Regions from separate parts of the Homo sapiens genome. Here region 1 is reported to be linked to region 2. Evidence: microRNA targets listed by miRTarBase, many of them from high-throughput screens and not tested one by one. Region 2 holds a microRNA gene; the other region holds the end of a gene's coding sequence. Distances are between the middles of the regions.

What was found. The annotated mature microRNA hsa-miR-6751-3p reads ACUGAGCCUCUCUCUCUCCAG and lies in region 2 at 3,689-3,709, shown strand. An mRNA with a match to its seed (bases 2 to 7 or 8) in the 3' UTR can be bound and repressed. Matches are read on the target gene's strand: a 7mer-m8 pairs with bases 2 to 8, a 7mer-A1 pairs with bases 2 to 7 and ends in A, and an 8mer does both.
Region 1: the mRNA of PATE2 is a reported target of hsa-miR-6751-3p. Seed matches in the 3' UTR shown: 7mer-A1 at 1,096-1,102.

The regions. Positions count from the first base shown.
Region 1 is chr11:125,772,685-125,778,211 of GRCh38, reverse strand. PATE2 (prostate and testis expressed 2) reads left to right here. Exons shown (of 4, transcript NM_212555.3): 3 at 210-338; 4 at 694-2,099. The coding sequence ends at 830. Among named protein-coding and RNA genes, the nearest start is that of PATE2, 3.4 kb to the left of the region's middle.
Region 2 is chr11:65,128,625-65,133,624 of GRCh38, reverse strand. MIR6751 (microRNA 6751) reads left to right here and starts at 3,647; the gene lies at 3,647-3,709. It overlaps SYVN1 (synoviolin 1), which reads left to right. Exons shown (of 16, transcript NM_172230.3): 2 at 7-155; 3 at 373-465; 4 at 551-703; 5 at 845-893; 6 at 1,274-1,377; 7 at 2,029-2,155; 8 at 2,252-2,351; 9 at 2,428-2,493; 10 at 2,589-2,705; 11 at 2,802-2,965; 12 at 3,246-3,374; 13 at 3,450-3,623; 14 at 3,710-3,896; 15 at 4,911-5,000. The coding sequence starts at 24. RefSeq lists a silencer at 327-503 and an enhancer at 1,226-1,275.

The DNA.
Region 1 (5,527 bases), 61 Mb from region 2:
ATTGGAGAAAATGTGTACAAATTTATTAATGTGTACATGGGGAGGACCGCAGCATGATTATCCCTATCTTTCTCAAGATTACCAAGAGTCCATGGTCCAAAAAATGTTAGGAACCACTAGGCAAGAATAAGGTCCTGTAGTGAAGCCCCCAGCCCCAGAGAATATTCTCAAGACTGCATCCTCTAAGCACCTCTTTTTGTATCTGGCAGCGACTGAAATAATGTGTTATGAATGTAAAAAATATCATCTTGGGTTATGCTATGGTGTCATGACATCCTGCTCCCTGAAGCATAAACAGTCCTGTGCAGTTGAGAACTTTTACATCCTTACAAGGAAAGGTAATGTGGAGTATAGAGTGACTGGAAAATCACCACCACCATCCCTGAGAAACAGTAGTGTTCTTTTGCCCTCAGCGTGAGTAGGTGAATGGGATGGGTGAGTATGGGGTGGTCTTGAGGGGATGGCAAAGACAGACTTTTCCCTAAGACCATATTGAGTGAAAAAGAGGCTGATGTCCCTTACCTGGCAGGGAATAAAATCTACTCTCTGGGTCAGCAATTAACAGACTCAGCTTTGGAACTCATTTGGGCCTAGAGAAAGGTTAGTGAGGACACAAAAACAGATTACTCCTAGGAACGCAGTAAAAGGAAATGAGGTCATTATGATCATATTTCCTCTCTTTTACCTCCTCAGGGCAGAGCATGTATCATTATTCAAAACTGTCGTGTATGACCAGCTGTGAGGACATCAACTTCCTGGGGTTCACGAAGAGGGTAGAGCTCATCTGTTGTGATCATAGTAACTACTGCAACCTCCCTGAGGGAGTTTAGTTCTACGTCTCTCCTGGATTTTGGGTTCTTTTTCAACCACTACGCTCTTTTTCTCTTCCCTGAACCTGAATTTTGCTCTCCTCTTCTATGCATTGGTAGAGAGTGAGAAAGCCAGCTCATAGTGAAAAGACAAGCAGGCATAAGGAGACGCAGTGTGGACAGCGGAGCCTATTGATGATGGAGCACTAGACTCACTCTTTGCACATCCCTGTCGCTAACAGGTGGGAGGGGTTTTGCTCTCCTTACGTGATACTGCCATGAATAAGCTCAGACTTGGTCATTTATTATCTCCTGTATGAAAATGTGAACACTTGGGCCATAATAATCTCCAATTTGTACTGAGAATTCTGTGACTATCCTCTATCCTCATCTACACACACACTCCTCTCCGTTGGAATTCTCTTTGGATTAGCCCTGACACTTTCTGGCACTGTCCTTTTCTGCCCGTGGGTTCTGGAGAGGGCTAACCCCAGCTTCCCAGTGTGTTGGCAGCATGGGCCAAGTCTTTCTCTGATAGAGCTCTTGGGGGAACCTCAGGGCAGAAAAAAAAAAACTGAACAGACATAGGGATGAGCATCAAAGAAAACTTCAGGGGGCATTTCAACTGGTAAAAACTAAGATCTGAGAAATAACTTGCTGTGGGTGGAATTGGCTTGAATTATCATTGCCCTGGCTGGCCAGGCAGCCTTGGGCACATGGTTGAACTAGGTGATTGGATTGGGAACAGAGTGTTTTTTTAAGGATGGCTAGTCAGGTTCTTCTCATGGGACTGAGCAAACAAAATGCTGATAATGTGGCAGGTGGTGTAGTAGTTGAAGATAATAGGATGTAAATAGATACCATGAGGTAGTGTTCAAGTAACAGAGTGCCCTGTGTAAGAGGAAGTTATGAGTTTGCAGAAAGTGTGAGAAAGGTAGCATATATGGGTAACAGTGGTGGGAAGAGAAGAAGGAAGACACAGAAACAGATAGGAAGAGAAACTGAGTAGCATTGATGTTGGAGCACACCTGTGGCCAAGGTGGCACATTTTCCTTGGATACACACTAACCCTGGTGTTTCTGTCCTTATAAGGCTGACTGCACCCTAGATGACGGGTTGATGGGTGCAGCAAACCACCATGGCACATGTATACCTATGTAACAAACCTGCATGCTGCACTTTCTTTCATGTATCCCAGAACTTAAAGTAAAATAAAAAAATAAATAAATAAATAAAGGCCAGAAAAATTGGCCAAAAAATCTGAATAGAAAAAGATATACAGATAGTAAATGAGCATATGAAAATATGCTTAACATCATATCTCACTAGGGAATTGCAAATTAAAACAACAATATTACGCAACTATACATTTTAAATGGTCAAAATCAAAAAAATAAAAAACCCTCACAGTAGCAATTTTTGTCAAAGATATAGAGCAATAGGAAATCTCATTTATTGCTGGCAGGAATGCAAAATGGTAATGCTGTTTTGGAAGACAGTTGGTAGTTTCTTAGAGAGGTGATTATACTCTTGCTATGTCATTCAGTAATCATGCCTTTAGATATTTACTCAACCAATTTGAACAGTTATGCCCACACAGAAACCTGCACACAAATGTTAAAATCATATTTATTCATAATTGCCTGAGACTAGAAGCAATAAAGATGCCCATCAATAAGTGAATGGATATGTAATCTATGGTACATCCAAACAGTGGGATGCTACTCAATGATGAAAAGAAATGATCTATCAAGCTATGAAAGGACATGGATACATTTTTAAATGAATATTGCTAAGTTAATGAAGCCAGTCTGAAAAGGCTACATACAGATGCTCCTCAACTTATGATGGGGTTATATCCTGTTATAACAATTGCAAGTTGAAAATACTGTGAACTGAAAATGCATTTAAAACACTTAACCTTCCAAACATCATAGCTTAGCCTAGCCTACCTTAAATGTGCTCAGGATGTTTACATTAGCCTATAGTTGGGCAAAAGCATCTAACACAAAGCCAATTTTATAATTGGCTTTGAGTATCTCATGTAATTGAGTATTTCATGTAATTTATTGACTACTCTACTGAAAGTAAAAAACAGAATGCTTGTATGGGTACTAAAGTATGGCTTCTACTGAATGCTTATTGCTTTCACACATCTTAAAGTTTAAAAAACTTGTAAGTCAAATCATTGTAAGTCTGGGAACATGTGTACTCTGATTCCAATTTTGTAAAAGACCAAAGTATAGGGTTGGTGAAAATATCAATGACTGCCAGTGGATTAAGAGGAAAAAAGGGATTGAATAGGTAAAGTATAAAAGATTTTTTAGGGTGATGAATCTATTCTGTATGATACTATACCAGTAAATACATGACACTATGCACTTGTCAAACCCCATAGAACTTTACTGCACAAAGAATGAAACAATGTATGAGAATTAAAAGAAAAATCATTTAGGAAGTCAGAGGATTCCAGGAAGGAATGCACAATGTGACAAAAATGATGTAACTGTTACAAATGTGTGAAACAATCTCTCTGAGTTGAGTTGGGGGAAAAGTTTCTGATCTGAGTAACTTTGTAAATGAGTGGAGCCTGTAAGCTTAAAGGCAAAAGAAAATGTACACAAGCTCTGCACTCTACTTGATAAAATTGTTTTCCCCAAGGTTATAGGTTAATAATTCTGATACTGCTCTACAGGTACACTGTAATTGAACTCCTAAGCAAATGAATGGGGGCTGGGGGAATCCAGGTTTCTCACTGTTGGAGTTAGAAGTTACAGATAAGCAAGAGAAAGGTGCTAGAATGATCAATGAGGTAATGAATTAGACATCAGTATGAATTCATATTTAGTTAAATATAAATACAGATTATTTATAAATATGTATATAAAAGAAATATTTATAAATATGTATATTTATGAGTTATTATACATACATATATTTCCTTGCTCTGTCAAATAACAATAACAATAGTAATGAGTACCCCTAGCACCCAGACTGTGGTTTCTAATACCATTCTCAAAAAAAAAAAAGAAATCAGAAGTCCTTGGAGAAATGGCTGATTGTAGGACTGGGGCAGGAAATTAAATGAAGAGAAGATGAGCCTGTAAATCTGAGGGAGTATATCAGAGGGAAATAGGAACAAACAGAGAGATCTCCCCATGGCCCAAACTGGATCAATTTGAATGACAAAATAAATGAGCCCAAAGGTTAAAATAAATTACCATGAATACAAGATGAATGCATAAATAAATAATTGAAAAAAATGGGAGAAATGATCTGATTGTCCCAGCTCATTATTTGTTGTTACTTTCGTAGATCCATTGCTAGTCTACACATTTGTCTGCACTTGCCTCAGGTGCCTGCTGTAGTGCGAAAGGCCATGTGGTTGTGTTGTGGAGGACATGGCTACACAGGGGCTGTGGCCCTCACAGATCACTTTAGAAGGAGGCTTGGAAGACACAAGCAAGCATGGTCGAGCCTAGCTGTCTCCTTTCCTTCTGTGTGTAGCCATCCTCTGCTTTATCTAGCAACCATTGTTATAACTTTAACACATTATGAATTTGTTCTTACTTCTTACAAAGTTACATAAAAATGTACTCTCTCACTGTCCTCCACGTTATTAAATCCCTATTGAATTATGACTAAGCAGTCAGCTACTGACAGCCCAGCCCTTGAGAAACTCTGCTTCTTTCCCGCTAACAACTCATGGCCGCACTCTTCTGAGCATTGCTCTCAGACAGGAGGAGCTTCTCACTTGAAATGACTGGAAGGTTTGCCCTCTCCCCAAGGGTGACCCACAGCCAATGGTTGACTGATATGTGTGAATAAAAGGGAGGTTAACTTGCACAAGTTGGGGCTGGGTATAGTGTCATTTATGTTCCAGAGTTATCTTTTGGACAAAGCCTGACTTCACCTGAATCACATCTTCTTCAAGCATCACCCCATTGTACCGTTTGCCTCATTCCCTTATAGTTTTCTCCTGAGAGCACTTCCTCACTGCATTATTTGCATCAGAATCCTCTTCTCAAGTTCTGCTTCTGTGGAACCTGGCCAAAGACAGTTGGTAACAGGAGTGGTCACAAAAAGCAGGCCATAATAAGGAATATTGCATTGGATTGTTCAACTGGCTAAATGTCAATGAGTACCCTATGGTGGTATTTGGAGTACTGACCGTTGCTGATATGTGGTAGCAGTGTGATTGTTAAAACTTTCAATTGTGGTGAACTTGGACTTAGAAGAGGTGGAAGATGAATTTGCTTGTGGGTATCTCTGACTCTGAGAAATGCAGAGATGATAGTGATGATAAGGATTGTGGCATTGGATGGCTGTTGCTAAGCATGATTGGAGCACCAAAGACAGAAAATAGCAGGCTCGTATTTATTAATCCAAAAATTTAGAGCAAAGTGTGAGTCAGAGGCCTTTCTTGGCAGCATTTAGAAATACCTTCATTTCTTGCAGCTGATAATGAGGCAAGGCATTCAACTGTAAGGGTTGGAGAACTTTAGAGAGAATGAAATTCTTAGCCCAGACAAGTCTCCTGAGCCAAAGTCAGGGCCCTCATAAGGAAGGAGTGTGACTCTGAGACTTGGGATAATGGGGATATCTGGATTGGTATACTTAACTCCTTAAGCCCTGAAATTTTTCTTTTGTCCCAATGACCATGCAGGAAGATAGCAGTCTTCTTGCTAGAACAGCATGGAAAGACCACAAAAATGTCT
Region 2 (5,000 bases):
ATGCAGGTCTCCGGGCCAGGGCAATGTTCCGCACGGCAGTGATGATGGCGGCCAGCCTGGCGCTGACCGGGGCTGTGGTGGCTCACGCCTACTACCTCAAACACCAGTTCTACCCCACTGTGGTGTACCTGACCAAGTCCAGCCCCAGCATGGCAGTGAGTTCAGGGCTCAGGGAGGGAGGAACTCCCTGGGAGGGAAGGAGGAGTCTGCCTGGGCAAGGGGCGGGGCTAGAGGTCAGGTAAGTAGGGAAGTAGCCGCCAGCTGCCTAACTTTGAATAAACTGTGATGAGGATGTGGAGGATCCTGCATGATGAGTCCCAAGGAGAGGAAAGCAGAAAGTGACCTCAAACCACAGCCTCTCCCCACTCCTAGGTCCTGTACATCCAGGCCTTTGTCCTTGTCTTCCTTCTGGGCAAGGTGATGGGCAAGGTGTTCTTTGGGCAACTGAGGGCAGCAGAGATGGAGGTAAGATGTCGGCTGCCCCAAAGGTGAGGGCAGGGTGCTGGGAAAGAATGTTTGGTATCCACATTATTCCCTGCCTGGCCCCCAGCACCTTCTGGAACGTTCCTGGTACGCCGTCACAGAGACTTGTCTGGCCTTCACCGTTTTTCGGGATGACTTCAGCCCCCGCTTTGTTGCACTCTTCACTCTTCTTCTCTTCCTCAAATGTTTCCACTGGCTGGCTGAGGACCGTGTGGACTTTGTGAGTCAAGGCAGGGAGTTCTGGAGCAGGTGGAAGCCAGGGAGTAGCCAGCGGGCAGGCTTAAGGAGCAGGGAGGGCTAGGTTGAGGGTGTGGGGTGAGCCCCAGGCCTCCTGACAGGCCTCTTCTGTGCTCTGCCTCAGATGGAACGCAGCCCCAACATCTCCTGGCTCTTTCACTGCCGCATTGTCTGTGAGTGAGATTCAGGGGAGGGGAAGGGAGGACTGGAACGTGAACCGTGGACCTGTACTCCAGAGCACAGGCTACCCCCCACAGCTGTACAGGAAAGATAATTTAGGAAGTTAATTTGCATAGTCTCTGTGCTGTTCCACTCTAGGGCTTCTCAACTGCCTGGGCCCTCAGCCCTTTGCCTTCTCACCTGCAGCCTGGGCAGCCCCAACAACTCCCCCTCCCCCAGGAAGTTCCCAGAGGGCCAGGTTCAGTGGAGTGTGCCCACCTGACTAGATCGCTGGGGCCATGGTGGGCTTGAGGGTGGGGCTGTCCTAGAGCATTAAACAGCTGTTGGGCCCTGGGCTGACCCCCCCACCCTGCATGTGTGGGGGTCCCCACAGCTCTTATGTTCCTCCTGGGCATCCTGGACTTCCTCTTCGTCAGCCACGCCTATCACAGCATCCTGACCCGTGGGGCCTCTGTGCAGCTGGTGTTTGGCTTTGAGGTAAAACTGGCTTGGGAGGTTGAGAGGACAAGCCCGAGGTGACCCCACATGTGCCTTGAATAACCCAACAGACCCTTCCTCAGCACCTGCTATGTGGCCAACCTGTGCTGGCCACCAAGGGGCAGTGATCAGATATGGCTCCTGCCCTCCACACGCTCACTCCTAGGTGACTGGGGAGACGCACAAAGAGGCTAGGACAGAGGAGGAGCCCCAACCTGGGGCTCAGGAGAGGGTTCCTGGAGGCTCGTGCCGGAGCTAGCTGGTAATGGACAGGAGAGGATTAGTTCCATGGACAACTGGAGGCGTGTCCCTGGCAGAGAGAGAATGTGTTCAGTGACAACAGCTCATATTTGTTGAGTGCGAATTTCACACCAGGCCCTATGCTGAGCTCCTGACCTGCATCTCTTATTCAGCAAGACAATACTGTTATAAAGGAACAGTTAATTATGTCATTTTATAGATAAGTAAACTGAGGTTCACTGAGTTGCCAAAAGTCACAGCTAGTAAGTGGAGGGGCTAGGAGGACCCTGGGTGTGTCTAGAGCCTGTGATTGTACCACTGCACCTGCTGTGCAGAGGCCTTGGGGAGCAATGTGGGTGCAGCAAGGGGGAGCTATGTGTTTACATCCCCCTCGTCCCCCTCTCCCTTCAGTATGCCATCCTGATGACGATGGTGCTCACCATCTTCATCAAGTATGTGCTGCACTCCGTGGACCTCCAGAGTGAGAACCCCTGGGACAACAAGGCTGTGTACATGCTCTACACAGAGCTGTTTACAGGTGAGAGGGGCCTGGGCCTCTCCTGATCTGGACCAGCATCCTCCACTCTGCCTCCTGGCCCTGTGACCTGCTGCTTTCTGCATCCCCTCCCCTCAGGCTTCATCAAGGTTCTGCTGTACATGGCCTTCATGACCATCATGATCAAGGTGCACACCTTCCCACTCTTTGCCATCCGGCCCATGTACCTGGCCATGAGGTGAGCCCGGCCCTGTCCCCCGATCCTCCTGACCTGATCCCGTCCCTTCTCCTGCTTTCACTGACTGTCCTTTCAGACAGTTCAAGAAAGCTGTGACAGATGCCATCATGTCTCGCCGAGCCATCCGCAACATGAACACCCTGTAAGTAGGCTTGTCATGGCTGCTGTCCCAAGCTCGGTCCTGGGTCCCTCTGCTTCCAGCTCTGGACCTGATACAGCCCCTGTCATCCTAACCAGGTATCCAGATGCCACCCCAGAGGAGCTCCAGGCAATGGACAATGTCTGCATCATCTGCCGAGAAGAGATGGTGACTGGTGCCAAGAGACTGCCCTGCAACCACATTTTCCATACCAGGTGGGAGGGGCCCTGGGGAGCCTGCACAGCAGGGCACAGGCCCCAGAAGGCAGGCCCCTAGGGACCTGCTGACCTCTGCCTGGCCTTGACCCGCAGCTGCCTGCGCTCCTGGTTCCAGCGGCAGCAGACCTGCCCCACCTGCCGTATGGATGTCCTTCGTGCATCGCTGCCAGCGCAGTCACCACCACCCCCGGAGCCTGCGGATCAGGGGCCACCCCCTGCCCCCCACCCCCCACCACTCTTGCCTCAGCCCCCCAACTGTGAGTATCCCCTTGTCTGGCCACCCGGCATACCACTGGATACTTGCCCTGGGCTGGATGTGGAAGATGCTGGGAAATTGGAGAGTCCCTGCCCTCCAGAATCTCAGTCTGGGCCAGGGAGGGATTAAAAGATGAGAAATAGATGCTTGCAGTCAGTGTGACCAGTGCTGGGCTGAGGGCCTGTGGGAATAGGACAGAGCTCTCAATAGCCAGGCCCCCTGCCTGGGAGTTGGGTCTGTGTCCATTTGGCCCTTTCCTTACCTCCGTCTTCTCTCTGCAGTCCCCCAGGGCCTCCTGCCTCCTTTTCCTCCAGGCATGTTCCCACTGTGGCCCCCCATGGGCCCCTTTCCACCTGTCCCGCCTCCCCCCAGCTCAGGAGAGGCTGTGGCTCCTCCATCCACCAGTGCAGGTGAGCCTTTGGGTACTGTGACAGCCAGGGGGCGGCAGGGATGGAACACTCACTGACTTCGTTCCTGCTCTTCAGCAGCCCTTTCTCGGCCCAGTGGAGCAGCTACAACCACAGCTGCTGGCACCAGTGCTACTGCTGCTTCTGCCACAGCATCTGGCCCAGGCTCTGGCTCTGCCCCAGAGGCTGGCCCTGCCCCTGGTTTCCCCTTCCCTCCTCCCTGGATGGGTATGCCCCTGCCTCCACCCTTTGGTAAGCTGGGCCACTCTCTGGGTTCTTCTTGGGGGTGAGGTTGGTGTCTGGCCCCAGCAGCCCAGACTGAGCCTCTCTCTCTCCAGCCTTCCCCCCAATGCCTGTGCCCCCTGCGGGCTTTGCTGGGCTGACCCCAGAGGAGCTACGAGCTCTGGAGGGCCATGAGCGGCAGCACCTGGAGGCCCGGCTGCAGAGCCTGCGTAACATCCACACACTGCTGGACGCCGCCATGCTGCAGATCAACCAGTACCTCACCGTGCTGGCCTCCTTGGGGTGTGTCTGTACAGGGGAAGCAGAGTGGGTTTGGTGGGTCAGGAGTGGAGCTGCCAAGAGGTCCCCAGCAGTGGTTCTTGGCCTTTGACACCTGCCAATTCAGGCTGCCTATCTACAGGCCCACCAAGGGTCTCCAGGAGTTCTTGGTAACTCCTGGTGCCTTTATTTCCCACTCCAGAAAGCATGTCTGGATCTAAGTAGGAGTGATGTTTATTCGAGAGCTGACTTTAGATCTTATTCCTTTATATTTTTCTAAAGTCAAATTATTCAGAATTTGCAGTGCTTTAGTTCATCACATGATATTCTTCTGAGATGTGGTGACACTTAGATTGGCAATTGCTGCCCCCAAACTGAGGGAGCGAATAATAGGAAGTCACTTGGAGCCATCCTGGCTCAAGTTCAAGCGCTGGTCCCATCACTCATTTTTGACCTCTCATTATTTGAATAAAGGGGTCTTAATTCATATTCATAAGTGATGTGTACTGCCAGATACACACCTATAATCAGCACTTTGGAAGGCTGAGGCAGGAGGATTGTTTGAGCCTAGGAATTTGAGGGTGCAGTGAGCTATGATTGTGCCACTAAATTCCAGCTTTGGTGACAGAGCCGAGACGCTGTCTTTTAAAAAAGTGACATGTACATAATGCCTGGCATCTAGCAGTGACAGCACAGGCTTGGAGAGGAACTTGAGTCCAAGGCTCGAGCACTGTGGCTTATTGAGTGAGTCCCCTATAAGGTGCCTGACTCCCCAGGGTGGAGACTGCAGGGTAAGAGTGAACAGGTCAACAGTCCCTGCCTGCAAGCACCTTACAGCTAAGGGATAGAATCATTTGGCCCTTGAGTCCAGTCACCCTGTCTGAGTTCATTCAGCATGTTCACTTGTGTTTGCCAGGCACTGGGGCCACAAGGGCACATCATTCTATACTCTGTTCTGCAAGGCTCACCAAGGGCAGGAGAATCTGCCCAACCTTGGATGCCAAGGCCAGGCCCGCCTCTCGTCCCTTCTCTTCCCAGGCCCCCCCGGCCTGCCACTTCAGTCAACTCCACTGAGGAGACTGCCACTACAGTTGTTGCTGCTGCCTCCTCCACCAGCATCCCTAGCTC